4 linked regions of the Homo sapiens genome follow. The protein of the gene in region 3 interacts with the protein of the main gene of each other region in a pairwise test. Each region holds a gene or a part of one and is shown on either strand. Other genes may lie near its edges. The genes, in order: GIMAP5, TMEM229B, GORAB and LRP10.

Region 1 (7,775 bases), on a different chromosome or scaffold from region 3:
AGTGGAAACTTCCAGTCCCAGAAAGTCTTTGTGTCAAATGGACATTCCAGCGGCGGAGAGGAAATTACAAGGTACTGTCCAGTGGGAGGATGGAAGTGGGGATCAGGGACACGAAGAACTGACGTGAGAGGAAATGGTATAGGGGGACCGGTATGACCGCTTTCCCACCCTGACGGTTGGTGGAGAGGAGGTAGTGAGGTGATTGAAGAGAAAGAATCAACTTCAGGCCGAATTCAAGAACAACTCATTGCCTGCTCCGGGTTTCCAGCATTGTGCAACAGTATTGGGGATGTACATTTTCCACGTGACTGGTTATTGCCAAATATGACTCCCAGGGAGTTGAGTTAACTCCTATTTGCACCACCCATTTATAAGAAGTCCCCAAATCTTCACAGGCACTTAGTAATATTACACTTTTAATTTCCTGTCATCCTTATGGGCATAAATAAGGATGTCTTAATTGGCTTAAACTTACATTTTACTGATTATCATTAAATTAAAAACAGTTTTCATGGTTTATTTGCTATTTTGGTAATTTATAAACTTCAATTTTTAATAACTTCTGTGATTTCTATCTTTTCCACATTTTTCTATTCATTCAGTGGATTTTCTTGGCCTTCTTTAGGTCAAGAAATCTATTTTTATATTATCAGAATGTATTAAGACAGCTTCCTGCCTCCCTCCCTTTCCCTTCTTTCTTTTCTTCCTCCTTTCCTCTTTACCCTCCCCTCTCTCCTTTCTTTCTTTTTCTTAAGCCCAGAGAAGAACATTTTCCTCTCTCCCACACCCTGTTCTCGTCTCTGGTAAATTATGCTTCTGGCTTTTGCTAAAATAGCACCAGTTCCCTGACATCCTCTCTACTTTAGATGACGTTTTCTGAGGTTTGGAATCAACATAATGATGTGGTAAGGGTCAAGATGACAGTGGTAATGATATTGATTATGAACATCATAATTGTAATAAGCCTCTGTGAATACATTTATAATTTTCAAAGTTATTTCATCCTTCTTATTTTAATTGCTCTCTCAAATTCCCTGTGATGTGATCAAAACTGATCTTAAAATTTCTATTAAAATGCAAGGAAACTGAGCATTAAATGACCTGCCAAAGGTCACATATTTACAATGGAGCTAGCATCAGGAAATGGCTCCTTTTGCTGTGTATTGTCCTTGATTCCACAGGTGGAAAAAGAGACTTTTCCAAAAAAGTCAACAAACCTCTTGGAACATGTGTACAATGCTGCCACTCCCTGGTCAGGAGACAAATTAATTGGACAGCTAGAAGCCTACCCTAAAACCAACACACAGAATTTTATTGCAAAATCTTGAGTGCATTTCTTATAAAAGGTTATTCAAAAATAAAATTGCTGGTGGCAGGAGTTTCTCTGAATTGAGGTCTTTTCTTTTAAAACAGCCAATTGCCTGTCACAAAAGCCAGTCAAACTATGTTATGTTAGCCAATGACCAGCAACAATAGCTCTCCCAATCCAAGCTTTCTGAGTGGATCAGGCTGCATTGAGGAATACATTTTTTGGCAGATATTCACAAATAACAAAGTGTTCACAGGTGAGTCAGAAAGGATACTGATGGCAATGCTAAAATGAGTCATGGAGAAGATTATAAAAGAACTGAATAGAGCGTGGTGGACACACCGTAGGCTTGAAGGAATGTGATACGTGTTGGTCTACAGGGCAGACAAAAGTGGAGGAATTGAGAATGAAGACAGGCGTCTTCTCCAAAGGAAAAATTTTACTAATCGTCCCACAAAAGAGACCAAAGTTCATGAGAGATTGGAAGGCAGTGTGCAAGCAAGACAGTAGCAGCCTCTGGCAAGCTGGTGGGAGGGTCTGGCTCAGGGAAAAGGGTGAAGCAAATGAACAAAATGCACATTCCGATTTGAAAATTGCATGAACCTGATTTTACCATGAGAAGAGCTTATTTTAGCAAATTACAAGAAAGCAGCCTCTTCCATACTATTTTAGAAAAGATCAAACCACTTCTTGTCTTCCTTGTTCATAAGTATCTCCTTCACCCATCTGCCCCAGCCCATGTATTTCCAGGTATTGGAATCATGTGTTTTGCGGTTTGGTGTGCGTCCGGCAGGGTGTCATAGGAAAAATGTGGGGCATCTGGGGGAGCATGGGGTAGTTTTCAGAAGTTGAAAGTCACAAGACAAGGTCCACTCAGGGGTCTTGTTTGGAACATGAGGCTCCTGGGGTGGGAAAATATCCCACATTTGCCCTGGGGAGCCCTAAGAATCCATCCTCAGCTCCCAGGCTTGTCTGAGACATGGTACGTGTCTGGCTGGTCTGGGACAGGAGAAATTAGGAGGGTAAAATTGAGAAGAATGCCCCGGCATGCTAGGGGAGATGGGGGAAAGCCTATCACCCTCTGGGAGCTTCAGTTCTCCCATCTGTCCCACTGATGAGAGGATCAGTTCAGCCTTACTCCCTGAGAGTTTCATGGAGATCGACTTGGCTAAGTAATGGGCAATGGGGCAGCAAAGCCCGCTGTCCTGGGACTGGGCTGTGAGTGCAGGCACAGATTCTTCAGGCTGTGCTCCACCAGCTGTGCACCTGCTGATGCCCGCAACACTCATCACCATTGCCCCGTTTTACTGACCAGCGAACCCAGAAGTGAGGGGATCTGTGCAAGGTCATGTCAGAAATGAACAGCTGTGACCAAACTGTGATCCTTTCAATTCCCAAAGTCTCTGTGAGCATAAACCCAGTTCTCCTTACCAGAAACGGTTGTTGTGCCCTGTCCTCCAGGGTGGCAGTCACTGAGGCTCTGGCCGCTGGTCCTCTCTCAGGAAGGTGAAGTGGCAGCAGAGAGAGTCCTGCTCTGCGTCTGTGTGCGGGGATGCTGTTCACAGGGCTGAGGGAGGTTGAGCAGACGCAGTTAAGGAGGAGCCATGTGCTGGGGCTGAAAGCTCCATGACTCAGCTGCACAAAAAGAAAAGTAGAGATTATGGAGTGTGTCCCCCACACCTCTGCGGACTAGGACACCCTGGTGTTGGCTGGAAACTGATTGGGAACAAGACCCTGAAAACCAGCCGAATGCAGCGATGTGCTGCTTCCTTAACGGGTCACTTCCTGTCATGAGCCTGCCCTGGGACAGTGTGCCCCATCCCATTTCCTTTTTTTTTTTTTTTTGACTGTTTCAAGCAAGCAGTATTTGGAAGAAGGAGATATGAAGGGAATTACAGACTCTCCCACTTCCAAGTTCAGAAAAGGTCCCTAGTGACTGGAAAGTTCTGGGCAGCAGCTGCTGCCCTCAGCACCCATCACCGGGGCACCTTCTCCTCCCAGCACTCTTGGGCCCCTTCTCACAGGCTCTGCTTCTGGAAAGTTTCTGCTAACCAGGATCAGAAAGGCACTCTGGTCCAAAGAGGACCAGAACAAGCCCTTGCAGGGTTTGACTCTGGGCTCGTGACTGACCCTGGTAAGCTGTCTGGCACGTGATGGAGCCCACCCTGTGGGGACATTGTGGAGTCTACGTGTCAGTTTATCTGGTAAGGGTTGAAAGCAGGGTGATAGAACCTCTATTTTTGAATTGATTGCCATTTAAGGCTAGAGCAGTGGACATAAACCTGATTGCCATTTAAGGTTAGGGCAGTGGACATAAACCTGATTGCCATTTAAGGTTAGGGCAGTGGACATAAGGCAATTATGCGATGGAGAACACAGTGGGACTTAGGCGGAGGGCCGTCATGGCCCAGAGAATCCCCATATCCTTTTCTGTTGACATTTGAAGTGGGGCTTACAGTCATATGGTAACAATTGTCTAAGACTTGATGGGAAAACAATTTTAAACAATCTCCTGCTAGCCCAGAAAACCTCTCCACAGAGGCAGAAGAGAAAGAAAACAATTTTATTATTGAATGTCCATTGAACCAGAATGTGATCTGGATCCCAGACAATCCAGGAAGAGATTGCAAAGACGGAGAGGGATGCCACCTGGTTATACAGCCAGGCAGGTGCCACCTATTACACACGTGTTCTCAAGTTAAACCATAACTAATCCTCAAGTAAGAGGACTTGACAGCACCCTTTGACATGCATAGTTCATCCTAAATTCACTCAGTAATCATCTGTGTTGGCTAATTGTCTTTCCAGAGGAAAAGTAAACTTCTCACATCCTCTATGGCAAGAGGAAGATTTGCAACTCAGAAAGGTGCTGGCAGATGTCAGGCTCCTACCTAAGTTAGGCTCCTAAATTAGGCCCCTATTTTCACACAGAGACTGGGAGGTGGGGACGCTACCTTCCTTGATGTTTGCATTTCAAAGGGATGGCTTCCAGATGCTCTACAGACAGCCCTGGGCTGTCAAACAGCTTTTAAAAAGATTTGCATTACAAAGGGTAGAGAAAGATTTCACACTTACAAGGTTTCTAAAGAAAATGCTCTAAGAAGGGAGGGGTAATTCTTTTCCACTTTGTTTTTTCCCCAGAAAAGAGAATTAATGTTTTCTCCTTATTTTTGATTTTTATTCGCCCTTACATTTTTAAATTCTTCAAGGACTTTCAACCTAGTCAGCACTCATAATTTATGTGAATTGAGCAGAGCAGGGCAGAAAGTGGGCTGTAATCTGACCAGGATTTCACCCTTGCTAGATAGGGACCAGGTACTCCCCCAGCACCTGGCTGGAATCTTTCAAAAACTTGACCAACAGAGTTCACATCAAAATCTTATAAACAGTGAGGGGCACCGAAGCTAACCATTCCCATCAATGTAGCAAATTCACTTAATTCTGGCAACATCTTCAAACTCCTTCTCTTCTTTCCTTTTGGTTTGAACTATTTGCAAACATTATTTTTATCCACTGAACTGGGTGCTCTGGCACCCCAGCTAAGGACTGATTTTCTGCTTTGAGATCTGTTCTCTAAGTCTTATCTCTTCTCTAGCAGTTCCCAGGCTCCTCTTATGGCTCAAAGAGACCCCAGGGAGTCAATGATGAAATGTGTTAACTGGTCTCTATCAGTTTTCTGGGTGAGATCGTGGGCTTTTTAGAGGCCAGGGACTGTCTTTAGGTCAGGATCTTGCTAGAACTTAGCCCTAGAAAGTGCTCAAAAATACTTACTGAGTAAATCAGTAAAACATACAACTTAAATGCTCTAACTCTTCCCTCATGTCCCCTTTTGTAGTTACATTTAGTGCTAGAAGAATAATCTTAGGTAGCTACTTTCAGAAAGTAGGGTTGTAGAAATTCGTATATATCCAGATATGAAAGGATTTCCAAAACTAGACTCTTTGTGCCTTTTTCCACACCCTCTCTATTCCTCTGTTCAGATTTGCAAAACAAACAAACCCCCAGGAAACCTGGGACACCGAGGAAGTGGCCATTTTCCCTACCCTTCTGTTTGACACCAAATTCAATCCCTTTTCAGCCTGGACAGAGACAGTTCTCTACCAAACCTGACATAGTACAAAATATGATGAATCATTACTGAAAGCATGTCTCTATCCATCCCCAGCCACCTCTGCTATCCCTGCTTTCTCTCTGTGATGCTCCCTGGTGCACAGAACTGAGCACGCTGAGTTGCAACTCATGTGCTCTAGCTATGTGATGAAGTTTCTGGAGTTCTGAGTGCAGTAGCCATCTCAGAGTAGATACCTGTAGGCTGCCCTGAGAATCAGCTTTATTAAGCTGAGGAGATGCCAAAGCTCCATCTCGGAGACATTTTGGGCAGCCACCTTCCCTACCAACTTGGAGTGATTCAAGGACCCCTGGGTTCATGCCTTGGACCTTCTGTTTGAAATGGGAGACAGACAATTATTGCCTTCTGATGAAGGAGGAAGGGAGAATGAGGGAAAGAGGAGGCATGGCATTTACCACTTTCTCCTGAGCCACTGGGCTGAGGTCCTAGGTGACCAACCGCCAACTTGCCCTGAATTTGACTGGATTTAGTACTACAAGGCCCACGTCCTGGGAAACCCCTTAGTCCCAGTCAAAGTGAGCCTGTTGGTCACCACAAGGTCTCCTAACTCTTAGTCATGCTTGCTGTCTTTCACCATCTGGCCTCTGTCTCTTCATCCATCATCTCACCCTATTCCATGAAGGTCTCCTATGAACATGACTAGTGGGAAATGTGGAAATGAAACCCCAAGTCAATGTTGGGAGGCCCTGAAGCCAAATGCTGAAGTGTGATTTCTCTTCCTTGTCGGTAGTCACTCTAAAAAAAGTTCTTTCTTGGAACTTTTTTTTAGAACATTGTGTTCTTACGAAAATCAAAGAGCAGGTAAAAGATGCTGAAAAAAAGTATTAAAATGCAGGCATTTCTATATTATCAACATTATTATTTCCTTTGTGTCTGGACAAGGTCATGGCTACTCTTTTCAGGGCTGAGAGGGTCCAGGTCAGGGGCGCCTCTAATTGGAGGTGAGGAAAGGAGCCTCCTGGATCAGGGTGCTCTACAGAGACCACAGCTGCTGAAGAGGCTTCACGGTGGGGGCGGAGATCATCTAGGGGTGAATCCAGGAGGTAGAGTTGAGGATTCAGAAACATCCAGGTCAATAAAAGGGGCCACTATTTGAGCCCACAGTTGACATACAACATGGAGGAAGGATTAACGATGCCATGAAGTACACTCTAAGTATCTAAATATTGCATCTTTTGAAGCAAATTTACCCTATTCTCCTGAGCCTTTGCACCACACCAGACCTAATGGGTGGTAAGTCCAGACAGCACCCATGGGAAGCAGACAAAAAGCCACCCTCGTAAGGAATCTGAAATCTTATTAGAGAGACAAGACTTATGCAAATGAAAGACAATGAGTAAGGGTCCCAAATGAATGTTTTGGACAAGTGTATTTCATACACCCCATTGTAGAGCATCAAAACATGAAATAGAGTAGAATAGAAACTATCAAAATTAGTCACACAAAATATGAGTGTATGTAAGCTCTGGGAAGCAGTATAAAACTGAGGGTCATGGTAAAAAATACATGATAGCACAGTTTTAGACAATGTATTAAGCAGGATTTTGGGAAGAAAAGAGGTCAAAACGGACCAACCCCAAGGAGAAAGCCCTGAGGTGTGGAGTAGAACTTGGACATGTGATCAAGGTTGACTGGAGGTGGAGAAGGGGCCCTTTGAAGCGGTTATTTTAAAGGAAGCAGAGAGTATGTAGGTGTCAGGGCAGGACAGTGCCTAGAGCAGGTTTAAGAGCTTGTTGTCATGACCTCTGGAGTTGTCTGGGTAGCTGATGTCTAGTTGTCTAATTCCATAGCATTGCATTTAGAGTAGAACCTTCACCCATTTAGTTAGCTCAAAAGGCCAAGAGGGAGCAGCAGGACTGAATGCATGCCTTGACGCTCTCCTCTAGTTGTTTATTAGATGAGTTAGATGAGGTCCAGATGGGATGATAAGGTCCCTGAAGATTTCCTGGCTGGCACCATGGAGGACAGCTCCTGTTGCATCTGGAGTGGGGTGGACCCTCCTGAAAGCCTAATGAGACCCTCCTCTACCCTGACATTATCACCTGCAACTGAATGTCTCCTGGTGAGCATCTTGGGATCCACAAGCTGATATCTTCCTGTCACGAATAATGTTTCTGAGCTTGCTGAGGTGTACCCTCACCAGGCTGATTTCCTTTTGAGTCATTACATTGGAAATTCTCGGCCCTTGAGCTGTCTATCAATTATAGGTTTGTTGAGATATTTTCCCCCTCACCCTTCAGAGGGGAGACAAAGAGCCCCCCAAAACCCCAAGGTGGCTCGAGGCCTGAGATCAGTTGCATCTGAGGTTGAGAGCAGCCTCTTCTGTTTACACACTAT
Region 2 (7,955 bases), on a different chromosome or scaffold from region 3:
CTGCTCTGGTTCACGCCCTCATCATGTCTCACCTGGATGACTCCAAAGGTCTCCCAGCTTTGCCTTCTTCCTTCTAATTCACTCATCACAGGATGAAAGAGTGTGTAGAAAAAACGCAACCTTTCTAAAATGCAAATCCGATGTTTCTCACCACTTGAAGCCCATGAGTGGATCTTCAACATCTACAGAGTAAATAAAGCTCAAACCCCTGGGGACGGCTGGCAAAGCCCTTCACAACTCGTCCCTGCCTCCAATCCTGTCCTCCAGATCTCTACCTTGCTGTTTTTGCTACCTGGGCCCCACCCAGGGCCGGTGAACCCTCCTTTAAGACCCAGCTCCTCCTCTGTGAGGACTTTCCTAAGCACCCTGACTCCAGAGTTGTCTTCCCACTTCTGCACCCTCCCTTCTCTGTGGTAATAGTGAGCACTCTGCTTCACTGGATTCATCTGAACGCCAGCACCAGCAGCCTCCTGAGGAATGCTTGTTTAAGATAGTGGTAAGAGAAAAAAGCAGGATTCAAAACTGAATATTCAACCTAACTCCGATTCTGCAAAGGCATGCATATGTGCACATATACAAAAAAATTAAACAACAATCATCTCTGGATGGTGATATCATATGTGCTTTTTTTCTTTATATTTTTCTGCATACTTTTTTTTCCTAACAAGCATGTATAACTTTTATAAAACTAAAATTTCATCTTAAAAATGCTTATGGAGGCTGGACGTGGTGGCTCACCCTGTAAACCCAGCACTTTGGGAGGCTGAGGTGGGTGGATCATGAGGTCAGGAGTTCAAGACCAGCCTGGCCAACATGGTGAAACCCTGTCTCTACTAAAAGTACAAAAATTAGCTGGGCGTGGTGGCGTGTGCCTGTAATCCCAGCTACTCGGGAGGCTGAGGCAGAAGAATTGCTTGAACCGGGACCCAGGAGGTGGAGGTAGCAGTGAGCGAGATCGTACCACTGCACTCCAGCCTGGGCTACAGAGCAAGACTCTGTCTCAAAAAAAAAAAAAAATGCTTGTGGAAGCTGGGTGCAGTAGCTCATGCCTGTAATCCCAGTACTTTGGGAGGCCGAGGTGGGTAGATCACCTGAGGTCAGGAGTTCGAGACCAGCCTGGCCAACATGGTGAAACCACATCCCTACTAAAAATACAAAAATTAGCCGGGCATGGTGGCATGCACCTGTAATCCCAGCTACTCGGGAGGCTGAGGCAGGAGAATCGCTTGAACCTGGGAGGCGGAGGTTGCCGTGAGCCGAGATAGCGCCACTGCACTCTAGCCTAGGTGACAGAGTGAGACTCCGTCTCAAAAAAGGAAAAAAAAATGCTTGTGGAATGAATATGTATTCACCGTATTCATACCTCGTGTATAGAAGGTGTTCAATGAATTTGCTAAGCAAATGAACCCAAAGAAACCTGAAGTCATGTAAAATTATTGCAGGCTCTTCCCTCCTGTGTCATCCAACAACAAACCATGCCTCACAGGTCTCAATATGGCCAGCTGGTTAAGTTCAGGGACCCCAGATGATCCTAACTGCCTGGGTTGGAATCCTGGCTGATGCTTTCCACCTGTGAGACCTAATGGACGCTGCCCAACCACCCTGTGCCTCAGGGTCCTTGTAGGTAAAGTGAGGATAACGGAAGTAATGACCACAGAAGGCTGTTGTGAGGACGAATGAACTCGTACATATACACTACTTAAAATACAGCTAAGGCTCCAGAAAGGGCAGCTGTCATTTCTGGCACAGAGCCAGACCTCTGGACAGCCCCTCCTGCTTTTACACCGCCTCTTACCCGATGCAGGGTCACTGTGCCCCTGCTCTCGGCAGCCTCCAGGCAGCCCTTCCTGTCAAGCAGGTTAGGTCTTCATCACAACCCTGAGCACCAAGCTAGCGAGCCAAGAAATCGGGTGGCAATAATAACCCCACATATGGCCCTCAGGAGAACAAAACTCCCACAGACATCCCGGGAGACTGAAGGTGAGCCTCCAGCTTCCCTGTGGCTACCGAGGGATGAATGGAAGAGGAAGGGTGTCAGAGCCAGCCCGAGGGGCAGACTTGAAAAGATGGTGGAATGAAAGGGGCACAGCCTCTCACCCCCTCATTTAACCTCCTACCCCCGGGCAGGAGAGAACAGATCCAGGCTCCAGGGGAACACACTGAGGCGGTCTGAGGGCCTGAGACAGATGGCACAGCACAGGGATGTGGAGACCTCTGGACCTCCTACCCCAACTCAGGCCCCATGACCTGCACGTATCCCCCTGGCTCTTCCAACCCCCAGGGCCCGGGCTGAGGGAACAGGAACCTCACAGGGGCTCTCCTGCAGCAGCCTGACATGACTGTGTGGATCTCATTACTCAGGCCAGACCCCAGCCTTGAAGCTGACTTTAAACCCTGCTCTTCTTGCCTCTGATCTCTCTGGGATGGCCCAGACCGGTTTCCCAGCTGGTAACAGACGGGAGGGTCCAGTCTCTTCCCCAACCCCAGCAAGTAACTTGGGAGAGTCAGATCCCAAAACCCTTGGAGCAGAAGCAAGAAGAAAGGGGTAGCTGTCAAAGGGAGAGAGAAACCTAGGGTGAGAGACAGGAAGTTGCTGAACAGAAGAGAGGATGGAGTTCATGCCTGCAGTCCCAGCACTTTTGGAGGCTGAGGTGGGAGAATAGCTTGAGGCCAGGAGTTCGAGACCAGCCTGGGCAACATAGCGAGACCACCATCTCTACAAAAAGAAAAAAAAGTAGGCTGGTTTGATGTGGTGTGCCTGTAGTCCCAGACGCTAAGGCAGGAGGATCCCTTGAGTTCAAGAGTTTGAGGCTACAGTGAGCTATGATTGTGCCACTGCACTCCAGCATGGACAATGAGCAAGACCCTGTCTCTTAAAAAAGAAAGAAAGAAAGAAAAACAAAAAAGCGAGATGGGGGAGAGAGAAATATGGTGTGCCCCAAGCCCAGATTCTGTTTCTGGGCAGCAGGAAGCCATGGGTAGTAGATGGAGGGGAAGCACACCACGGCAATGTCAGACAGTGTCCGAGGGCAGAACTAGGAGAACATAGCTGGTCCATGCAAGACCAACAGGGGAAATGAAAGACCTGAGTCAGGGCAGAAGATGGGGTTGAAGAGAAAGGAATAGGAGACAGTGTCATTGGCTGAGGTGGCAGCTCCCAGTGTGGTGGGGAAGATGATAATATTAGAGGCTGGGCATTGACTTGGATGCGTTTTCAGAACCCCACTCTCCAAACCCATTTCTAATCAGCACAGGAGCTGTGCTTAACTTTGAGCTAGGACAGGCTCGCCCACCCCATACAGGGCCTGACAGGCCTCTATTCCCTGCCCCGGCCTCCACCCACCCGACTCCCTATATCCTTAGGCTCCTTCCACTAGCTCCTTGCTCAGCCCTGGGATCAGAGCCCTGGGAAAGCCTGCTGCAGGGAGAACCGGCAGCTCAGGGGACCTTGGCTTCTTTCTCCTGGTGACAAACAAAACTGTCCTGAGACCTGTGACATGAAGATAGGACAGCCCAGGAACAGAAATTCAGGGTGGATTGAAGAGGAGGAGAGTGTGAGCAAGGTTGAATGCAGGAGGACAGAGTTTGGAGAGCAAAGGATAGCTTCACAAGCAGGGTTTCATTGAACAACATTCAAATCCGAGAGTCCTCATACCTGATGAAAGGGCCTGGGCAAACAGAGTCCCATCGAAGGGCCAGGACTCAAGGTGACTTGTGAGGTCTAGGAACTACCCCTTCAAGGGAACAGGTGATGGGGAAGGGGAAGGGGATCTGGCTTTCAGAGCCCTGTTCACTAAGAGCATCTCACCGGCTGCTCTCCGAGCCTGCTGTTCCACAGGGTGGCAGGGGACATGGCCAGCAGTTGAGAGGGGTAAAGAGGCTGCCATAAAAGTCTAAGACAGGCTGAAGGCAAAACCAGATGGAATAACTGCCCTTGGTTTTGTCAAAAACTCCCATCTTGTTTCAGGGGGCTAAGGTGCCACAACACAGTGACTCTGGGAATTTTTGTCCAGAGAAGCATCTGGCCAGAAAATTGGGATTCCCCTCCCATGCAACCGGGCTGGGAAGGCCTTCCGCTTTCACTCCACTCACTTCCCAAGCTTCACTCCCCATCCCCAGCCACCCCCATCACTACAGTTCCATGTTCTGGGGAGACCCACAGCCCTTCTAGGAGACCCCTGAGGCAACGCAGCGGGGGACAGCTTCAGGAGCCCTTGGGCGGCTCTGTGCTGAAGATAAGTGGCTTCAATGAGGAAAGGGCAGAAACCTCCCTGAACTTCCCCTGTTGTCATCAAGTTAGCAGGGAGGAAAATAGGGCTTGCCCAGGGCCAGAAGGGAAGCAAGTGGAGGGAAACTCCTGTAGCCACTGGCTGGTGCACATGCTGCAGACTTCCACCCTCTTGCTGTGGGTGCCCCCCAAGGAAAGCCCCTGGGATTAGTGATACTGCAGGCCTTGATGAAGTCCTCCCTCCACCTCCCAAGTCACAGTAATAATAATAACCAGGTGCTCTTCTCAGTATTTCCATGTATTAACTCAAAAAATTCTCAAGCCCATTTTACAGATGGGGAAAGTGAGGCAGAAAGAGGCTACGTTCTTTTTTTGTTTGTTTTTTGTTTTTTTAGATGGAGTCTCACTTTGTCACCCAGGCTGTAGTGCAGTGGTGTGAACTTGGCTCACTGCAACCTCTGTCGCCCGGGTTCAAGCAATTCTCATGCCTCAGCCTCCCAAGAGGCTGGGATTATAGGTTCCTGCCACCACACCCAGCTAATTTTTGTATTTTTAGTAAAGACGAGGTTTCACCATGTTGGCCAGGCTGGTCTTGAACTCCTGACCTCAAGTGATCTGCCTGCCTCGGCCTCCCAAAGTGCTGGGATTATAGGCACGAGTCACCACACCTGGCCGAGCCTACATTCTAATAACTATAAAAGGCAAGGCTGGGATTCAAACCCCACAAATCTGGTTCCAGAGTCTTTGCTCCTAATCAGCACACTGCACTGCCCCCGAGGCTGACTGCAGGCTCCTCTGAGGGCACTACCATTTTCTGAGTTCCTGCTTCTGGAAGGCTGGGATGGTATGTGGAGAGACAACAGGAAGCAAGGAGAAGGTTGTGAACTTCTAGGTGGTTCATTAACAAACTTCCCAACTGGGTGTCAGAGTTCCTAAAGGCTCCCAGCCTGTTCCTCGGGATCCACACAGAGGCCCTCCAGGGTCAAAGCTGACAGTCACAGGACCATGACAGCAACCAACCCTCAGGCCCCAAGGCATGCGCCATTCAAAGGCCCCTCACCAGGACACACACAACCCAGAGGCCCCCTGACTGCCAGCCCACACCAGTGCTCCTGGGAGTCTCAGATGGCCCGGCCCAGCCCTGCCATGGAGACACCAGCCAAGAGCAGGGGCCAGCTGCCCAGAGGAGCAACAGCCAGCATGTCAGGAGGAGCGGTCCGAACACAGAGGATTTCAGGGGGCCTCAGATCCCAAGCAAACCGCAGCAGGAGGCAGGGCAGGGTGAGTGGGCTTGGGGGATGGAGTCAGTTCTGGCACAGAGGTCCCTGGGGCTCAGAAAGCGAAGGATGCCCTGCACGGGGGACTGGCAGGCTGGCATCCCAGACCTGTATGTGGCTGCCTTGCTGTTACCATTCAGATCTCAGCTGAGCTGTCATATCTCAGGGACTTTTGATCCCCAGTCCAAAATAGCCTCTCTGTCACTCACATCATTCCATTTTATTTTCTACATAGCACTTTCACTTTCTGATATGTTGCTACTTATTTATGGTCTGTCTCTCCTCAACTAGAATGAAAACTTCATGAGAGCAGGGGCACTGTCTTGTTCACTGCTGTTTAGTCAGTGCCTAGAGTGGTGCCTGGCAATAATACCTAGTAATACTTGTGGAATGAATGGATGGATGAGTGGGCCCAAACAGGCCCAGGCCCTTAAACACTGATGAGGGCAGGTATAAACAGCTAGCTGCCTCGGTCTCTCTTCCCTCCTTTCTTGAGAAATATAGCCTTCTAAAACATTTAATTCTAGCATTTAATTTTTTTTCTAATTATAAAAGCAACATGTGCTCACAGCTGAAATTTAAACATTACAGAATGACATAGAAAGCAAAAGTTCCCTGTAATCACACATCTTAGAGAAAGTCACTATTAATGGTATGTTGTGTAGTCATCCGGATTCAATTTTATTTTTTAAAAAGCCAATCCATGCATCATAGAAGAAGCATTCATAGGCCGGGCATGGGGGCTCACACCTGTAATCCCAGCATTTTGGGAGGCTGAGGCGGGAGGACTGCTTGAGCCCAGGAGTTTGAGACCAGCCTGGGCAACATAGTGAGACCTCATTTCTAATAAAGAAAAAAAAAGAAAAAGCACTCATAATTCTGAACTAACAGCGATTACCATTTCTCCTTTGCAATATTTTCCTATGTGTGTATTTTACAAGTCACCATAATATACTTATTCTGCAACCTGCCATTTTTACTTGTCATAACTGTTTTTCCAAGTTGTTATATAGCCTCTGTGCTCATTATTATAATGGCTGTGTAATATTCCAGCAAGCGGAAAACTGTAATTTACTTAACCTAGATGTCCAAAGGGAACAGTTGTTTCCCATTTCTACTACTACAGATGATATAACGAGAATTACCTTTAATGCCTGTAATGGAAGAATTCAGCCCTTTTCTTCTCTGGTACTATTTCCTAATAATATATCTTAATGGATAATTCCAGAAGGAGAATCACTGAACCAAACGGTACAACAGCCTTAAGGCTGATGGCATAAATTGCTCTGGGGAGATGTGCCTCCCATCTGAGGAACGACGTTCCCACAGAGGCACCCATGGCCATCTCTTTACCCCCAACTCCCCTCCTACAGTCTAGGCTTGCTCACACCACCCTGGCTACAAATCAACTCAAGAACACACTTCCTGAGAAACTCTCCAGTCAAACTGACTTTGTAAGCCCAGGCTGAGTGGAAAACAGATTCTGGCCCTGAATTATAAACTGTCAACTAGGAGAGTCAAGATCTACCTAAAGTGGAAAAAGACCTGATTACCCCTTTTCTACTCCCTGCAAATTCCTGCATGGAATCTGAAGCTCTGGGTTCCCATGGACCAGCCTAGGAACTCCAAAAAAAGCTTGTCTGTTCAAGATTGCAAAAGCCCAGCTCTGCCTGCCATGCCTTCTGGGGAGCTTCCTTCCTGCAGGCCTCTGATCCCACCAGGCTACGGGCCCTGCACAGACATAACAGCCTTCAGGCCAGACAGGCCTCTGGGGGTTGGGAAAGCAGCCAATTGTCATTTTTTAAGGCATCATCAAGGAAAAGCCAGGGGCTGAGGCTGGAAAGAAAGGCCTGTGAGGACAGGCAGGGCTGTGCAGTTAGGAGCCTCTCACCCTACCTCGAGCTTGTCTCGCTGAGGAGGAGATGCTGCTGCTGATATGTGACAAAAGCAAGAGGACATGCTCCTCCAGATCCCCTGGTGGTCACTCTTATGGCAGCTAAGGCTCACAAATCCCCCCACCTCCCAGGGCCCTGGATGCCCTACTCCAGGCCTCCTAGACCAGCAGCACATGCATTGCTCATGGCTTCTGGGCAGAGTCCAGTCCCAGGTGATGCATGGTCCTCACTGCACAGATCTGAAGCCTGACGGCCAAAGTAGATGCTGTTTCCCAGGTGTGAGTGCTCGCTTCACTCACGCCAGACAATCTGAATGATATGGTTTGGCTGTGTCCTCACCCAAATCTCATCTTGAATTTCCACCATGTTGTGGGAGGAACTGGGTGGGAGGTAATTGAATCATGGGGCCAGGTCTTTCTCATGCTGTTCTTGTGATAGTGAATAAATCTCATGAGATCTGATGGGTTTTTGTTTTGTTTTGTTTTGAGACAGAGTCTTGCTCTGTTGCCAGGCTGGGGTGCAATGGCACGATCTTGGCTCACTGCAACCTCTGCC
Region 3 (7,955 bases):
ATCCACAAACTGGAAGCCAGAATACTGTGGCATGTGTTTAGGAGTACAAAGAAATTTGTGTAAGTTAATTATGTATTATATGCAGAATGGAGATTAATAAAAATTGGTTTGTAGCTGATGTCATATTATTTATACCTTTTAGAGTTTTCTATAAAGTCTCCACCACCTTAACATGTTTCAGACAATAACCAATGTTTATTTCATATATTAATATTTTCTTTCAATTTGCTCACTTTTTCCCAACTCTTAAGACTTTTTTTTGTCTTTCTTTTTTCCTTTTTGTGGAGAACAGGGTGTCGCTATATTACCCAGTCAGGTCTCGAACTCCTAGGCTCAAGCTATCCTCCCGCCTCTGCCTCCCTAAGTGCTGGGATTACAGGTGTGAGCCACTGTGCCCAGCCCAACTTGGACATTTTTAAACAAAGTAAAACACTAAGAGCTAAGACTGGAATGCTGGGCTAAAGAAAAAAATTCAAAGATGTGAAAACATGTATTGTCTTACAATCTGTCCAATTCTAAAATAAATACATTAAAATTTCCCATAAAGTCATGAGCTTGATGTCAACTCAAATTAAACAAGGTATTGGCAAAGCTATTTATTCCTATTACTGTCACTTCTTACAGCCATTATATCACATACCTCTATTCCCAAATCTAGTAGCCCCTTCCAAAATTGTCCTTCTCTCTCCATTTCTACACCTTCCACCTTAGTGCTGGGACTGGTCATTTCTCACTTTTACTACTGCAGGCATCTCCTCACCAGGCGCCTTAGTTCCACAGCTCACTATGCACTCTCTTGCATATGATCTACAATATTGACACCTGGGATTTCTCTAACCTTTATTTTGATTGCGGCCTTTAGCCCTCAGAGAGCTTCATGGTAACTTGCTGCATTAGTGAACTTGCTAGGAAGGAAGGCATCCCCTGCTTCCGATCCTTTCTCATTTCTTTAATTCTCTACTTATTCATCCCCTGCTTCTGCTTCTGATCCTTCCTCAGTTCTGCTTTTTTTTTTTTTTTTTTTTTTTGGGACAGAATCTTGCTCTGTTGCCCAGGCTGGAATGCAGTGGCATGATCTTGGCTCACTGCAACGTCCACCTCCCAGGTTCAAGCAATTCTTGTGCCTCAGTCTCCCAAGTAGCTGGGACTACAGGCATGCACCACCACGCCCAGCTAATTTTTTTGTATTTTTGGTAGAGACAGGGTTTCCCCATGTTGGCCAAGCTGGTTTCAACTCTTGGCCTCAAGTGATGTGCCTGCCTCAGCCTCCCAAAGTGCTGGGATTATAGGTGTGGGCCACCACGCCTGTCCTCCTTCCTCATTTCTTTAATTCTCTACTGTTCTCTGGCTTATCCTTTGCCACCTCTCCCAGAGAAATGAGGTATCATCTCTGAACATTCTCTAGGACACAGCTTTCCTTTCTCCTCCTTAAAACCTCAAAATTTCTCCTTTACGTGAATGGTTTGAGGTTACAGGTCTTTTATGAAAATTCTTCCAAGTATCCAAAAAAAGAATAAGTTTCCCTATAACATCCAATCCAAATTGTCCAGCTCAATGTAAACTTACCTCCTATTTGTCTCCGGCCTTTGTTAGTAAACTACACTTAGAGACACTTTAATGTATGCACTTGTTCAATATAGGTTTCATAATTCATGTGGTTTTATAACTCTTGTCAAAATGATTTCTTAGTTGTAAACCCCTAGTGGACAGGAAACATTTTAAATTCACAGGATAGAATCTGGATCAGCAGAGATTAAAAAGATGTCAGAGATTAGAAAAAAAAAAAGATACTTTGAAAAGAACTCAGAAAAGAGAAAACAGAAAAATGTCATTCCTTCTCTGTGAGAGATAAATCAGGAGCAAACAAAGAAATAAGAGTATATATTAAAACACAAGCTATCAAATAAAAAATTCTAAGAATTTGCAAATCAAAAAATGGCATCTTCCACAAGAACAGTGTAGCTAAATTATGAAGGTTGTTTCTAATACAAAGACAGTAAAGAATAAATAAAAAGAAATCTAATGATGAACTGAGTTATATCATTAGTCCCCTAAATTTCCTACACTCTCTCCTTTGACCATCCCTTCACGTCTCTCCACAAGTTCCAATTTCTGGGCCAATGGAAATAGTCTGGAAGTTGAAAAAAGGGGTCAATTTGGGCAGAGGCACTATGCATATAAGAACTGCTTCTGAGCTGTGATTGCGCCATTGCACTCCAGCCTGGGCAACAGAGCGAGACTCCATCTCAAAAAAAAAAAAAAAAGAAAGAAAAAAAGAACTGCTTCTGCTCAGTGTAAAAGGCATAAACTTTGGATCCAGACAGACTTATCTGTAAATCTCTACTATTTACTAGCAGTGTATTAGCTTTAGAAAGGTATCATCTTTTCTGAGTCCCAGATACCTCATGTATAAAGTTTAAATAATAAACATGCATTGTAAGGCTGTTATGAAGACTAAAGAACATAAAACATACAGAATGCCTGTGTCCAGCTTATATTTAGGCAGTAGCTATTTTTCAATAGTTTATACATCACATTCCTATGATTGAATGAATATAAAGGAGAGAAAATGTTAAAATAAACAAATTATATTTCCTTAAAGCCCATTGGGAAAAAACGGGTTAAATGAAAAGTCTCATGGACTTTTCACATAGACTTACTAACAATTCCACTTTCTTTTTCTCCAATTTGCAATCTGGCTTTGGAGGTAGAATCTCAACATTGTTGTGACCATCATGGGAATTCTCAAGTCCCAGTTCCTTTGGCTGACTTTCAATGCCCTGTGGTTGTCCATCACCAACGGGGGAGGTGAGAGTGAAATGACTCGGAAGAGTAGGGGAAGAAAAAGGTGGTTTTTGAACGTTAACTCTCTGTTTTGGTGCTGAAAGCAGCTGCTCTGGAAGTAATGAGGTTGATCCATCTTGAAGCCCAAGTTTTTGGCTTTGCTCTACAAGGGCTTTTTCTCGCTGAAGTTGTTGTCGACTTTTCTTCGCGGGGAGACGTCGCTGTGGTTCAAATGGATCTATGTAAAAGAAAATAGAGGAAAATTCCTTTGTGTGGGCAGCAAATAATTATAATTCCTCTAAGAAAATAAAAAATTAACATTAAACGTTGATAATTCTAGTGGTTCTCCTACCCCATTCTCTATCTTGAAAGTCTAGGGGAAAAACAGCCATCTTCCTGTAGAGTTTCAATAGTTTTCAGATCATAATGTTAATATTTAACAGAAACTGCCCCATCTCTTAATTTATCTTCAGAGAAAGTCCATCAGTGAGTTAGGCCTTAGGTCACAAAGTGAAGTTTCTTTTTCAACTTGATTTCATAGTTGTCAAAAGAAAGCAACTAATTTTGACCAAATCAGGGAGGTGACTGAATTATCTGGTTTTAAATTTGATTTATGGTTCTGTCTGCTCTACTGAAACAAAATGGTGGTTGCATTTTCAAATGGGATTACCCTCTCTTAAATTTTAACAGCTTTTAGGGCAATTTGGTACATATGTGATACATATTCAGATGCTATAACAGGCATGTAATTGAGTGAAGTCTCTTATTTCTAGGAATGCTAGTTAACCTTAAATTGTTGTCTTTCATCCTACAGAACAATCCAAGGTTGTACTCCCCGAAGCCTAGTCAGGCTCTAATCAATGCATTCAAACTGATTTTAATAGTAGCCTCAGTAAAGCAATAGAAGATAAAACAACTGGGGGGAAATATCTTTAAAGTTATAAATAATAACACTTCTATTATACTTTTTGGACTGTCCATGCCAGTGTTAACATCTTAGGGCAGACAATTGGAGAATCTGACCCACATTCATACTATATTTCATAAGATCTATAAATAGCATTCTCTCTTAAATGCCTGGGAAGTGAAGTTATCAGTTCTTGTAAATGAACAACTCAAATGGGACTTTCAAATTTGGCATATTGACTTTTGAAGCAAAACAAGCTTATTATTTGAATTTCCCAAAGTATAGTTAAAAGCTCTAGAGTCACAATTCCAGCTTTGCTTCTGCCCAGCTCAGTGACCTCAGGTAAGTCAATTATTTATTCAATACCTTAGTTTCCTCATCTATCAAGCTGGTTGAAAATTAACCTGCTCTACTTAATGCATGAAGTTGGTGTAAGAATTAAATGAGATATGTACAGAAAATATTTTTTAAAAGACTGAAGTACTATCAAAAGCAAATGTTATTGTTGACTTTAGCCAGAAACACAAAGTATCCTGTATCTTGCAACAGGAACACATTCTTGGCTCTGATCTTTATTCACACCATCAAAAAATGTCACTTAGCCTGCTTATCTCCCTGTTGAACTCATTAGCTGAATTATTAATAGTTCCTCTGAAATTCAGGTAGTAACTTCTATTTTATTTTGCATTTTTACAGAACCTACCTATAAGACTGAAAATGCTAATTTTAAACAATAAACAATAAGCAAATCAGGCCACTTAAACACAGAACATATTGCTTCCCACACTCTGTATTAGGGGCTGCAAATATCAAGGAGACTGTGGTGAACTGAGAAGCGTAAGTCTAGTGTAAAGGGGGCAAATTCCGAGTCACCTTTAGTCAATTGCTATCATTAAAAAATTTAGGTCACCATAGCCAGATATTTTGATTTTTATGATTACAATTTAGACTTTTATGTAAAATATCTTGATTTTTAAATGTAGGGAACTGTTTCAATCAGGAAAATCTAGATTACGCTGTAGGGGCAAATCTTAGTGGTTTTAAACCACAAAGGTTTATTTTTCATTAATGCCAAGTGCCAACTAAAGGCTAACAGAGAGGTTCTGCTGATTAGTCTCTCAAGGCTCTAGGCTGACTGTACAGTCAGTATTCAGTGTTGCTGGCCACCACAACACAAGGAGAAGAGAGAGGTCAGGAAGGTCTTGCTATAGCAATTAACTGCTGACCCAGTAGTGACATAACACTTCTGCTCACAATGCAATGGCTAACCTAGTACATGGACCTACCCCCAAACAAAGGCAACAGGTATAGCTGGCTTAGCAAATAACACAATGATTATCACCATTATTAACTAAAAGAAATGTAAAGATTGGATAAAAGAAAGAGAGACAAAGAAGAAAGAAAGGAATGAAAGAGGGAGGGAGGGAAGAAGGGAAAGAAAGGAAGGCAGGCAGGAAGAAAGGAGGGAAAAAAGAAAGAAGGGGAAAGAAAGGAGGCAAAGCTGAAAAGCCACATACATTTTTGGGTTAAATTAAGCTAATGGGCTACCAGTTTGTGATATATACTCCATATCCTTTATTTAAGCCCTGCTCCCTCCACCTCAGAAAACTATCATTTGAATCATATGTTGATTATTCTCTTCCTTCTCTAATAGTCATATTGCATCTACAAATATTTCTAAAAAGTATTTACTTAGTTGTTTGACTTTATAAAAAGGGTTTTGTGCTGTACATCTGTTTTACTTAATATTACACTGTCAATAGTCATTCATATTGTCTATGTTTCAGCAGTCATTCATTTTGTTGTATAACATTTCATTGTGTGAATAAACCAGAGTCTATTGATCTTCTTCCACTGATAGACATTTAGGTTGGTTACAGGTTTTTGCTTTTGTAAATTTCAATAATGTGTCTCTTATTTTACATGTACAAGAATTTGCTTTGGATATTATCTAAGAACTACTGAGTCACAAAATATAACTTTAGAAGAAATGTGAAAATGCTTTCCAAAGTGTGCTCCCTCTAGTAATGTATAAGATCCTGTGGATGCACTTTCTCTTCAATACACGATACTGTCAGATGTTTTAATTTTTGTCAATCAAATGGGTGTAAAATAGTACCTCACTGTATTCTTGATTTGTAATTCTCTGCTCCTTGGTGGTGATGAGCATCTCTTCATATTTCCTTTTCTAGGAAATATCTATTCATGTCTTTTGTTGACTTTTCTTTTGTCTTGTATTTTTTATATATCAGCAGAAAACAATTAGAAAATACAATTAAAGAGAATATATTTCAATACCAGAAATTATTACTTATCTAGGAACAAATCTAACAAAAAGATGTTTAGTACCTCTATAGGGAAAACTCTAAAATTTTATTGAGAATTTAAACAAGTACTAAATAAACGGAGACATATACCACGTTAGTGGCAATGTTAATAATATGAAGATGAAATTGATCTAAAGATTCAATGCAATTACAATCAAAATTCCTAATGGGTTTTCCATTAAATTTGGTAAAATTATTAAAATTTTTATATGAAAAGATAGAAGGTCAAGAATACTGGCTGGGTGCAGTGGCTCACACCTGTAACTACTATACTAAGTATAGTAAGAAACTAATTTCTTAAGACATGGAAATGTTGGCTATTAAAAAAAGGTTGACATATTTGAATACATTAAAATTAAGGCCTGGAGTGGTGGCTCATGCCTGTAATCTCAGCACTTTGGGAGGCTGAGGAAGAATTTCTTGAACCCAGGAGTTTGAGACCAACCTAGGCAAAATAGCAAGATCCTATCCCTACAGAAAAAAAAAGAAGAAAGAAAGGAAGAAAACTAGCATGGTGTAATGGCACACAGCTGTAATCCCAGCTACTTGGAAGTCTGAGGCAGGAGGATCGCTTGAGCCCAGGAGTTCAAGGTTATAGTGAACTATGATCGTGCTACTGCACTTCAGCCTGGGCAACAGAGTGAAAGCCAGTCTCAAAAAATAAAATACTTTGTTCATCAAAAAGATAAAAGTGAAAAGATAACTTAAAAACTGGGAGAAGATATTCATAATGTAACTGGCAAAGAATCAGTATGAAGAATAACTCTTCTGAATAAATAATTTAACTAAAAATTGACAGCATGTGGCTGTACTGTTTTCTTCCAATTTTTCATTATGAAATAGACCATACATCAAATATATGCATGTGTTACACTCATAAACACACACACTCAGTCTTCCAACCTATATGATTAAAAAGAAAGTTTAAGAAATAAAATATGACAGTAGTAGAAGTAACTACTCTTTAAGGATAGACATAATCCTCCTTTTAGAAGAGAGAATTTATTTCCTGTCTCCCAAGTTATATGACTTGCTTTTGGTAAATAAAAGTAGGAGTGTCACATGTCATTTACTGGTGAAAGGATTTAATTGCCAATGTTCAATTTTCAATCTTCTTTTCTTCCTACTATGGTAAACTCCTACAAGACAGCACCAAAAAACGGAGTGACTGTGCAACACAGTCACCTGCCAAACCCACATTAAACATGAAACGAGTGAAAACCAAATCTTTATTTTAAACAATTGACTTATTAGGGCTATTTGTTACTTTAGCTTAACTTGTCTTAACCTGATTTCATAAATACCAATACCTCTGAAATTCCCTCTCCCTGATCACATTCCCACGCCTCCCCACTATATACAATCATACGTCACTTAACAAAGGGATACATTCTAAGAAATGTGTTGTAAGGCAATTTTGTCCTTGCGCAAACATCAGAGAGTGTATTTACACAAACCTAGATGGTACAGCCTACTATATACTTAGGCTATATGGTACAGCCTTTTGCTCCTAAGCTCCAAACCTGTACAGTATGTCACTATACTGAAGACTGTAGGCAACTGTAACAACGGTATTTGTGTATCTAAACATAGAAAAAGCATAGTAAAAACAGGGTATTATAATATTACCAGACCATCACCATATATGTGGTCCGCTGCTAACTGAAATACTGTTATTGAGTGCGTGACTGTATATATTATATATACAGCTAGCTGATCCTTGGTATATGAGGATAATTGGTTCCAGGATCCCCATGTATACCAAAATCTGTGCATACTCAAGTCCCACAGTTGGCGCTGTGAAGACCACATACACCAAAAGTTGGCCCTCCATATACTCAGGTTTTGCATCCCCCAAATACTGTATTTTTTAAATGCACATTTGTGTATAAGTGAACCATCACAGTTCAAACTTGTGTTGTTCAAGGGCCAAGTGT
Region 4 (7,955 bases), on a different chromosome or scaffold from region 3:
CTCTTTTACCGTTCTTTTTCTGCCCAGTTCCCTTTCCCTTCAGGTTCCTTCTCCTGCCCCTTTCCTTCTTGTCCTCCTTCCTGACACCCTTAAGCTCCCAGACACACGTTCCGATTTCCTTTCCTTGCCCCGTTTTTGCCAGATGCTGTGCTAAGTACTTTCTTGCATTATCTCCTTTCATCTTCTTGAGCCCAAGGCCCACAGTGGTAGGTGGGTGCCCCGTCCCTAAAGCAATCTTGCAGCTGGAAAATGGGAACACCAGGAATCCCACCCACATCTTTCCAGTGCCAAGGATTTTTCATTTCTACATTGTGCAGCTTTCCTTCTCTTAAATATTCCAACTGTCTCCTATTATTGGGAACAGTCTATATTGCTATCCTCAGTGGACTCTTCCAATGGAAGAGGCAAAGAATAATCTTGGGAACAATGTGCAGTGACACTTCACTTATTTGGAGGTCAGCTATAGGGCAACAGTGCAGGGTTTGAGGGAGCAGAAAGGACCCCTCAGCTGCTAAAATACTCCTGTGCTTTACTCACTGGGTAGATTCTCCAGTCCTCAGTCATGGCCTACTTACTTTTACTTTTTACTTACTTTTATTCACAATTTTAACGTGTCCATGTGTGTTCCTGTACTAGTAGATTAGAAACACATTTAGAGTAGCAAGTGACCCCTTGTAGTCAGGGAGGCAACACCACACACACACAAAATAACATTTAAAGCACTCATATGCATTTTATAAGTGGTCTAAGGTCATTTAGCATAAAAGCAAATAGCTCCCCGTGCCCCTACTGTTACAACTTCAGAAGACACTGCTGGAGAAAAGCCATTGGTTTCTGTGAATGATCCTCAGTTATGCAGAAAATTATTATATTGCAGATATGCTGAAGACAAGTGTAACATTTTAGAATGACTTCCTTCCAAAATGAGTATTTTTATTTTTTTCAGAGGGAGGGTCTCACCCTATTGCTCGGGCTGGACTGCAGTGGTGCGATCATGGCTCACTGTAACCTCAACCTCCCGGGTTGTGCACTTGCCCGTATCCAGGCTCCCTCAGGAATGGGAGGTCCCATGGAATGGTGGGACAAGGGTGAGATTTGGAACGAAGCCATGCCGGCTCTAAATCCACCACTTGGTAGAGACTGGGCCAGTCTTCTGATTTCCCTAAAGCTCCTCCTGAGCTTGCAAAATGGGGTTTATGATGCCCATGGCCCAGCCCTGTTGTGTGGGTTCACTTCAGGTGATGAAGAATCTGGCATCATCGGGCACTCACTTTTTTTTTTGAGATGGAGTCTTGTCTCGCTCTGTTGCCAGGCTGGAGTGCAGTGGCGCGATCTCAGCTCACTGCAACCTTTGCCTCCCAGGTTCAAGTGATTCTCCTGCTTCAGCCTCCCGAGTAGATGGGACTACAGGCACGCACCACCATGCCCAGCTTATTTTTGTATTTTTAGTAGAGACACGGTGTCACCATGTTGGCCAGGATGGTCTTGATCTCTTGACCTCGTGATCCGCCTGCCTCGGCCTCCCAAAGTGCTGGGATTACAGGTGTGAGCCACTGCGCCCCATCCAGGCACTCACTCTCTAACCACCTAGGTGCTTCTGCAGCCTTGGGCTGTGTGGCTGGGGGGTCCTTCTCCCCTCCTAGTGAGGTCTGGAGCTTGGTTCAGGCCCATGATTTTTTTTTTAAATCTATTTATTTATTTTGAGACCAGGTTGTGAGACTGGCTAATTTTTAGTATTTTTGGTAGAGACAGGGTTTCATCATGTTGCCCAGGCTGTTCTTGAACTCTTGGCCTCAAGCGATCCGCCTGCCTTGGCCCCTCCAAAGTGCTGGGATTACAGGTGTGAGCTACTGCGCCTGGCAGAATTTTGTTTCTTAAGGACTGAGTTCTGGTATCTTCTTTTCTTTTTTTTTGGAGAAGGAGTCTCGCTCTGTCACCCAGGCTAGAGTGCAGTGGCGCGATCTCCACTCACTGCAACCTCCGCCTCCCGGGTTCAAGCAATTCTCCTGCCTCAGCCTCTCGAGTAGCTGGGACTACAGGTGCATGCCGCCACACCTGGCTACTTTTTTGTATTTTAGTAGAGACAGGGTTTCACCGTGTTGCTCAGGCTAGTCTCGAACTCCTGAGCTCAGGCAGTCTGCCTGCCTTGGCCTCCCAAAGTGCTAGGATTACAGGCGAAAGCCACCGTGGCCCAGCCCTGGTATCTTCTTTTATCTTAGGCTCTAGACTCTGATTCACAGCCTGAACCCTATCTCATGCTGAAAACACCTCCCACCTTCCCACCAAGAGCCTTAACGTGGGTCCCACACCGCTAAGACCAAGCACCTTGGATATTGGTATCTATCTTGATGGAATTTTAGGTTGCCTCATTTCTTTTTTTCTTGGGCCCTGGTGGAAATAAACCTGAGTGACTGCTCCCCAGTGCCATCACTTGGGCAGGACACTCTGTCTTAGTTTCTCCATGCTGCCTGTACAAGGTCAGTCCCCTATCCCGGCTAGCTTGGGGCTTCACTGTGGCTGACAAGAGTATTATTACTACCTACACCTCGTACAGCACACAACCAGAACCTAGAGAAACTTCTTTCAGGCCCACTGATCTATAAGCACAAGCCTCCTTAGTGAACTCTGCCCTAAAGTCCTCCTTCCAGCATTTGGAAGCATTCCACCATGAGGAGCAGGTTTACCTTAAGTCTTTGTCCACTTTCAGTTTGCAATACCACTAGGAGAGAAAAGGTCTGGATGAAGGGATGAAGATATCAGGCTGCAGGTATTTGAGGTGGCTATGGGGGAAGAGAAGAGCAAAGGAGAGGGCAAAAGACCAGGCTATGGAGAGGCAGGGGAGGGAAAATCACTGCTTCACTATTTCCATTGGGCCTGACGCTGAGTGGATCCTGGATTGTTTGCGTTTGGGAAGGAGGGCCCAAAGGGAGAACAGTAAGCAAGAACCAGGTTCTCCAGAGCCCTCTCCCCAGTCTCTGGAGAGGGTCTGCAGTGAAAGGAGCTCGGGTCTTCCCTGAGCCAAGGTGCCAGGGTCCCAGAACTGCACATGGGCCCACACCCCTCTCTGCTACTTCCTCAGGCTCTTGCTCACTAGAAGAGAGGAAAATTGTGCAATTAGTGCTGGGTTTGAGGAGGCTGACAGGGTGTAATCAACAGGGCCTCTCCACCAGGTGTGGGGCTAGGCTGGGTGATGGGCTCTGCCAGGCGTGGGGCTAGGCTGGGTGACAGGCTCTGCCAGGTGTGGGGCTAGACAAGGAGAGCCTGAGGGGAGCCTCTTTCCCCAGGGACTGGGTCCGTTAGGGAATTCCTCAGTTTTGTTCCTGAGGCATCACTCCCACCCCCACAGCTTCCTTCTACATCTTCTGCCTCGATCTTCCTTCCAAACTCTGGGGCAGCTTCTGTCACTTTGCTCACTAGGGGCTGGGTTCCAACACTGCTTGCGAATCATTCCCTCCATCACCCACCCCAGCGCTGCAGCTCTGGCCGCTGCTTGTGCTCTCAGGCCCAGGGTCTTTCCTATAACCCTTGCCCTCTTGTCTCCTCCGTTTGCTTGTTCTGGGGACACTCCCCCTGTCTAGAATTCACAGCTCTATTCCAACTGCTGACAGCATTCTTTTGGTTCCAGTTTGGGCCCTCTTCCAGGAAGACCTCTTGGATTTGGCCATGGTGATGCCAGCACCACACACCCTGAATGTTTGTGAATTCTCCCTCCACTCACCTTTGCCTGCCTTGAGGTATCCTGGCTGAGAATTCATCTGTCTTGCATAGGACAGACTGCTAAATGCCTGGTGGGTGTGGAGGGTGGAGGGTAGGAGTCATGACTCCTGTGTCCCACCAGGGACAGCTGCTCCTATGATCTGGGCTCAGGGTATGCTCCAAAAATGAGAACCTTCCTGACCGCAGGGCCCAGCTGGCTCCCCTGACTTCTATGCTGGCAGTGAGGAAAGAGGCCCTGGAGTCAGTCATTGCAGAGCTGGGCCCCAGGCATTTGAGTGAAAATGGAGAGGATTGATCCTTAGGGTTCCTAGAATTTTCTTACCTTCTGTGTGGTATAAAAATCAAGAGTGCAGTGGTTGGGAGATGAACAGGAAGAGGGCAGGAGGTAGAGGGCCAAGCAAAGGGCTCCACAGGGAGGAGTGGGATGAGGTGAGCATAGACTGAGATGGGCAGAGGCGGGGCTCAGGCTCGCAGCTAATTTGCAAAATTTTGAGATGTATGATTCCTTTATTTTTGACCTCAACTTACTGAGCAATGCCGTAGCTATGGAATAGAAGCATTTGTTGCACTCTTTTTGTGAGCCAGGCCCTGTAGGAGGGATTGTGGATGGCAAAACCTCAGGTTCTGCCCAAATCCTCCCCTTGGGGGCTGGAGGGTCTCTAGTTAATTGGCATTCCGGTGCTTAAGGCCACTTTTGGGTAGAGGTTTGGCAAGGATGGAGTGTCCAGACCTATGATCCTCTAAGAACTTTACTTTTTAAAAACAGCCACCCAAATGGTGGTGGCGTGGGGAGCAGGTGGTGGTGAAGGGACTGGGGTGTCTGGCCATGGCCACGTACAGAGGAGACTCTGTGAGCCCTCTCCCTGCCTGAGGGACACTTAACTTTATAGCAGCTACATAGGGTCAACGGGAGGCCCACCAAGTCCCTGAAATCCAGGGACAGGGAAGGAAGTGGTGGAGGGGAGGCTGACCCACCTCTAAAAGGTTGTGCCACTATGAGTAGAGCCCCCAGGGGAGAGGCCTCAGTAGAGCCCCCAGGTCCCCTCAGGTAAGCAGTGGCTCATCCTCTGCCTCAGCTACCCACACCCCCGGCTCAGCCAGTGGCACCAGTAGCACATCGTCCTCATCTTCCAGGGCCAGGACTGCTGTGTGGGGTCCAGGGGGGCTCCGGGTTGGTCCTGGGGGCCCCAGGCTGGGCAACAGGCGGCCTCGCAGGGCCTGCACCACTCCAGACAATAGTGATGGCTCTAGGGGCAGTGAGGGCAGTGGCCCTGGGGCTTCAGGGACAGTAGTGGGGGCTGGAGACGTGCTAGCAGATGGGAGGGGAGCCTTGATGGGCAGTGGGGGTGCCTGCTCCCCATCTTGCCCACCCACTGCCCCGCCCTCACGGGCTGGACCTGTGCCACCATCTAGGGCCTCAAGGGGAGCAGCAGAAGGTGTGACCTGGGATCTGGCCTCAGAGGCCCGAGCCGGGGTGTTGGTTCGAGGGAGCAAGCCCCAGCGGCGGAGACGGCGTACCAGGCGTCGCATCAAGCGGCCCCGCTGACGACGGCGGGCACCTGGGCCACCTCCTGGAGTCATATCCTGGCGTAAGATCTGTAGCAGAGAACGCAGGTTGCCCAGCACTGAGTTCTGCAAGGAAATGAGGAGGCCTCAGAGTCAGAGGGCCAAAGGCTGAATGAAGGAGGGTACAGGGGCGGGGCCACAGCAGAACTGGGACCAGGAGGTGCTAGGGTTGTGGGGAGTGACTTACATCATTAGGATTCTCTGTAGGAAAGTCTTCTACAGGTGGGATGGCACCCTGGGCAATGAGCTGCCCGTAGGAAGGGGGTGCCTGCTGCTGCACAATCTCAGCCTCCATCCGGGAGAGGGGGGCAAAGATGCTAGAAGGAATGAGGACTGCTCAGTCACTGGTAGTTCTCGGCCAGAGTAGACCACCTCAGCCTGGACAGTCCTCCCACTTCCACACCCGGGCCAGGCCAGCTGGAGCTGTGCCATGGCTTTCCCAAAGGTCATCTGAGGTCCCTCCTCCCTTGAAACTGCTTTCAGGATCTGGACCTGTCCCTTACAGGACACAACTGACAAGCTGATCATGGGAGCCTCTCCCCAAGGTGGGCACTTTCGTGGTCTCCTGTAGCTGCACAGCCCAGCCTCACCCTCAGGGTCTACTCTTCTACTGCCAGCCCCACTCCCACTGACCTGTACTCCTGGGTGCGAATGGCATAGAGCTTGCAGGTGCAGCCCAGGGCGATGACCAGGAGCAGGCCGCACACTAGGCTGCCAATGACTGCAGCTGTAATGACCTTGCGGGGCAGAACATAGGAGCAGTCCCACTCATCACTGCCGTCCGCACAGTCTGGCTGCCCATCGCACACCCACGTCTCATACACGCACTTCTCGTCCCGGCATCGGAAATTGCCAGGCTGGCAATGCCGACAGCGTCTCTCATCTGCTCCATCAGCACAGAAAGTCTGGTAGTTGCAGCGGTCAGCAGGCAGGTAGCAGGCTGTGGCACCAGAGGTGCCAGCAGCCCCACAGGGGAAGTGTCCAGGTGGGCAGCCTGGGCAGTCCTCCTCATCTGTGCCGTCAGCACAGTCCCATGAGCCGTCACAGCGCTGTGCCTCACTGTAGCAGCGCTCACCTAGGCCTTCGCCAGCTCCCAGGCCAGAGCCTAAGCCACAGGGTCTGTCCCAAGGCAAGCAATAGCCCCGCACATGGTAGGTGGCATTGAAGCCACGACCATTGCTCCAAGCAACTGTGTGGTAGGACACAACAGCCTGGCCAGACAGTGTCTCCACAGTGACAGCCTTGCCATTGCTGAAGTGGGTGAGACTACGCAGTAGTCGGGAGCTCTCAGGGGGCCCAGGGCCGTCATACACATGCACTGCATCTCCAAAGCCCAAGTCCAGGGCTGTGAAGCGCACGGCCAGCCGCCGGCCATCATGGGGGTCCAGCAGCCAATGGCAGGACTGGGGGTGGGAGACTGAGGCTAGGTGTGTATATCCAGGAGAGGAGAAGACCCCATAGAAGTCCTCCAAGGTGACATTGCAAGGCAGGGAGGGGACGGGTCTTGGGGTCAGGCCAGGGAAGGGGTCTGAGCTGCAACCTGCTTCATCAGAGCCATCGCCACAGGCATCAACCCCATCACAGCGCTGGACAGCAGATACACAGCGGTGGTTCAGGCACTGAAACTCTTCCTGCAGGCACATCAGCCAATCTGCAGAGGCACCATGGAGAGGGGCTGTGAAGCACCAGAACCCTCAGGATCCTCCCCTTCTGCCTGGGGCTTTCACTGCCTGCTCCTCAGACATCCCTGTCCAGCCTACCTTGGCTGTAGGAGAGCAGGAAGCCCTGGCCCATGGGTGCTCTGGCCCCAGCATAGCTGTAAGTGATGGTGACGTTGCCCCCGGGCAGCTGCAGAGGGCTGGGAGGTGCCTCACACAGGGAGATCAGTGGCTGGAGAGGGGAGCGTAGGGTTAAGCGCTCTGAGCCACAGGCCAGGTGTAGCTTCTGGAACCTATGGGAGTAGAGGAGAGCAGGACATGAGATACTCTTGACTGCTGCTGGCTTTCTCCTCCCCTGGTGCCACCAGGCCCCTTGTGTCCCAGGAAGCATAAACATCTGCTTATCCATGATCTAAATGGCCAAATGAAAACTCAGTTAGCCTATTTATTTATTTATTTAGAGACAGAGTTTCACTCTTGTCACCCAGGCTGGAGTGCAATGGTGTGATCTTGGATCACTGCAACCTCCACCTCTTGGGTTCAAGTGAGTCTCCTGCCTCAGCCTCCCAAGTAGCTAGGATTACAGGTGCCCGCCACCACACCTGGCTAATTTTGTATTTTTAATAGAGATGGGGTTTCACCATGTTGGTCAGGCTGGTCTCGAACTCCTGGCCTCAGGTGATCCACCCGCCTTGGTCTCCCAAAGTGCTGGGATTACTGGCGTGAGCCACCATGCCCGGCAGCCAAATTATTTTTAAGTCAATGTAGTCAATGGGGATCTTCCTAACATGGTAGGAATACCTCATGGTATCGCCATGAGACCATAAAATATATCCTAGAGCCCTTTGGAAAAATTGACTTGTGTTCTGGGACTGAGTTAAGAAGAGGTGCACTGCATTCCAGTTGTTGTAGCACTGTCACCCAAGTATGGTACCAGCAGTAACTGGTGATTACCATACAGTTCAATTAACCAGAACTCACCATCTTATCCCACCCCACTGTGCCAGATGTGAG

What was found.
Region 1: the proteins of GORAB (region 3) and GIMAP5 interact in binary tests that used the Homo sapiens proteins (3 or more experiments, as listed by UniProt).
Region 2: the proteins of GORAB (region 3) and TMEM229B interact in binary tests that used the Homo sapiens proteins (3 or more experiments, as listed by UniProt).
Region 4: the proteins of GORAB (region 3) and LRP10 interact in binary tests that used the Homo sapiens proteins (3 or more experiments, as listed by UniProt).

The regions. Positions count from the first base shown.
Region 1 is NC_000007.14:150,732,674-150,740,448, reverse strand, and holds the start of GIMAP5 (GTPase IMAP family member 5), read right to left. Parts: upstream 3,032-7,775; 5' UTR 2,945-3,031; coding exon of another isoform or gene 2,741-2,944; intron 1-2,740. Other genes in the region: GIMAP1-GIMAP5 protein, read right to left, coding at 2,741-2,944. UniProt on the Homo sapiens protein: Plays a role in T lymphocyte development and the optimal generation of CD4/CD8 double-positive thymocytes. Inhibitor of GSK3A, possibly by sequestering GSK3A in cytoplasmic vesicles and impairing its translocation to the nucleus.
Region 2 is NC_000014.9:67,478,409-67,486,363, forward strand, and holds part of TMEM229B (transmembrane protein 229B), read right to left. Parts: intron 1-7,955.
Region 3 is NC_000001.11:170,534,277-170,542,231, reverse strand, and holds part of GORAB (RAB6-interacting golgin), read right to left. Parts: intron 5,923-7,955; exon of another isoform or gene 5,811-5,922; intron 3,023-5,810; coding exon 2,665-3,022; exon of another isoform or gene 2,661-2,664; intron 1-2,660.
Region 4 is NC_000014.9:22,874,334-22,882,288, reverse strand, and holds the end of LRP10 (low-density lipoprotein receptor-related protein 10 isoform 1 precursor), read right to left. Parts: intron 7,235-7,955; coding exon 7,044-7,234; intron 6,959-7,043; coding exon of another isoform or gene 6,935-6,958; coding exon 5,917-6,934; intron 5,601-5,916; coding exon 5,471-5,600; intron 5,350-5,470; coding exon 4,762-5,349; 3' UTR 3,091-4,761; coding exon of another isoform or gene 3,088-3,090; 3' UTR 576-3,087; downstream 1-575. UniProt on the Homo sapiens protein: Probable receptor, which is involved in the internalization of lipophilic molecules and/or signal transduction. May be involved in the uptake of lipoprotein APOE in liver.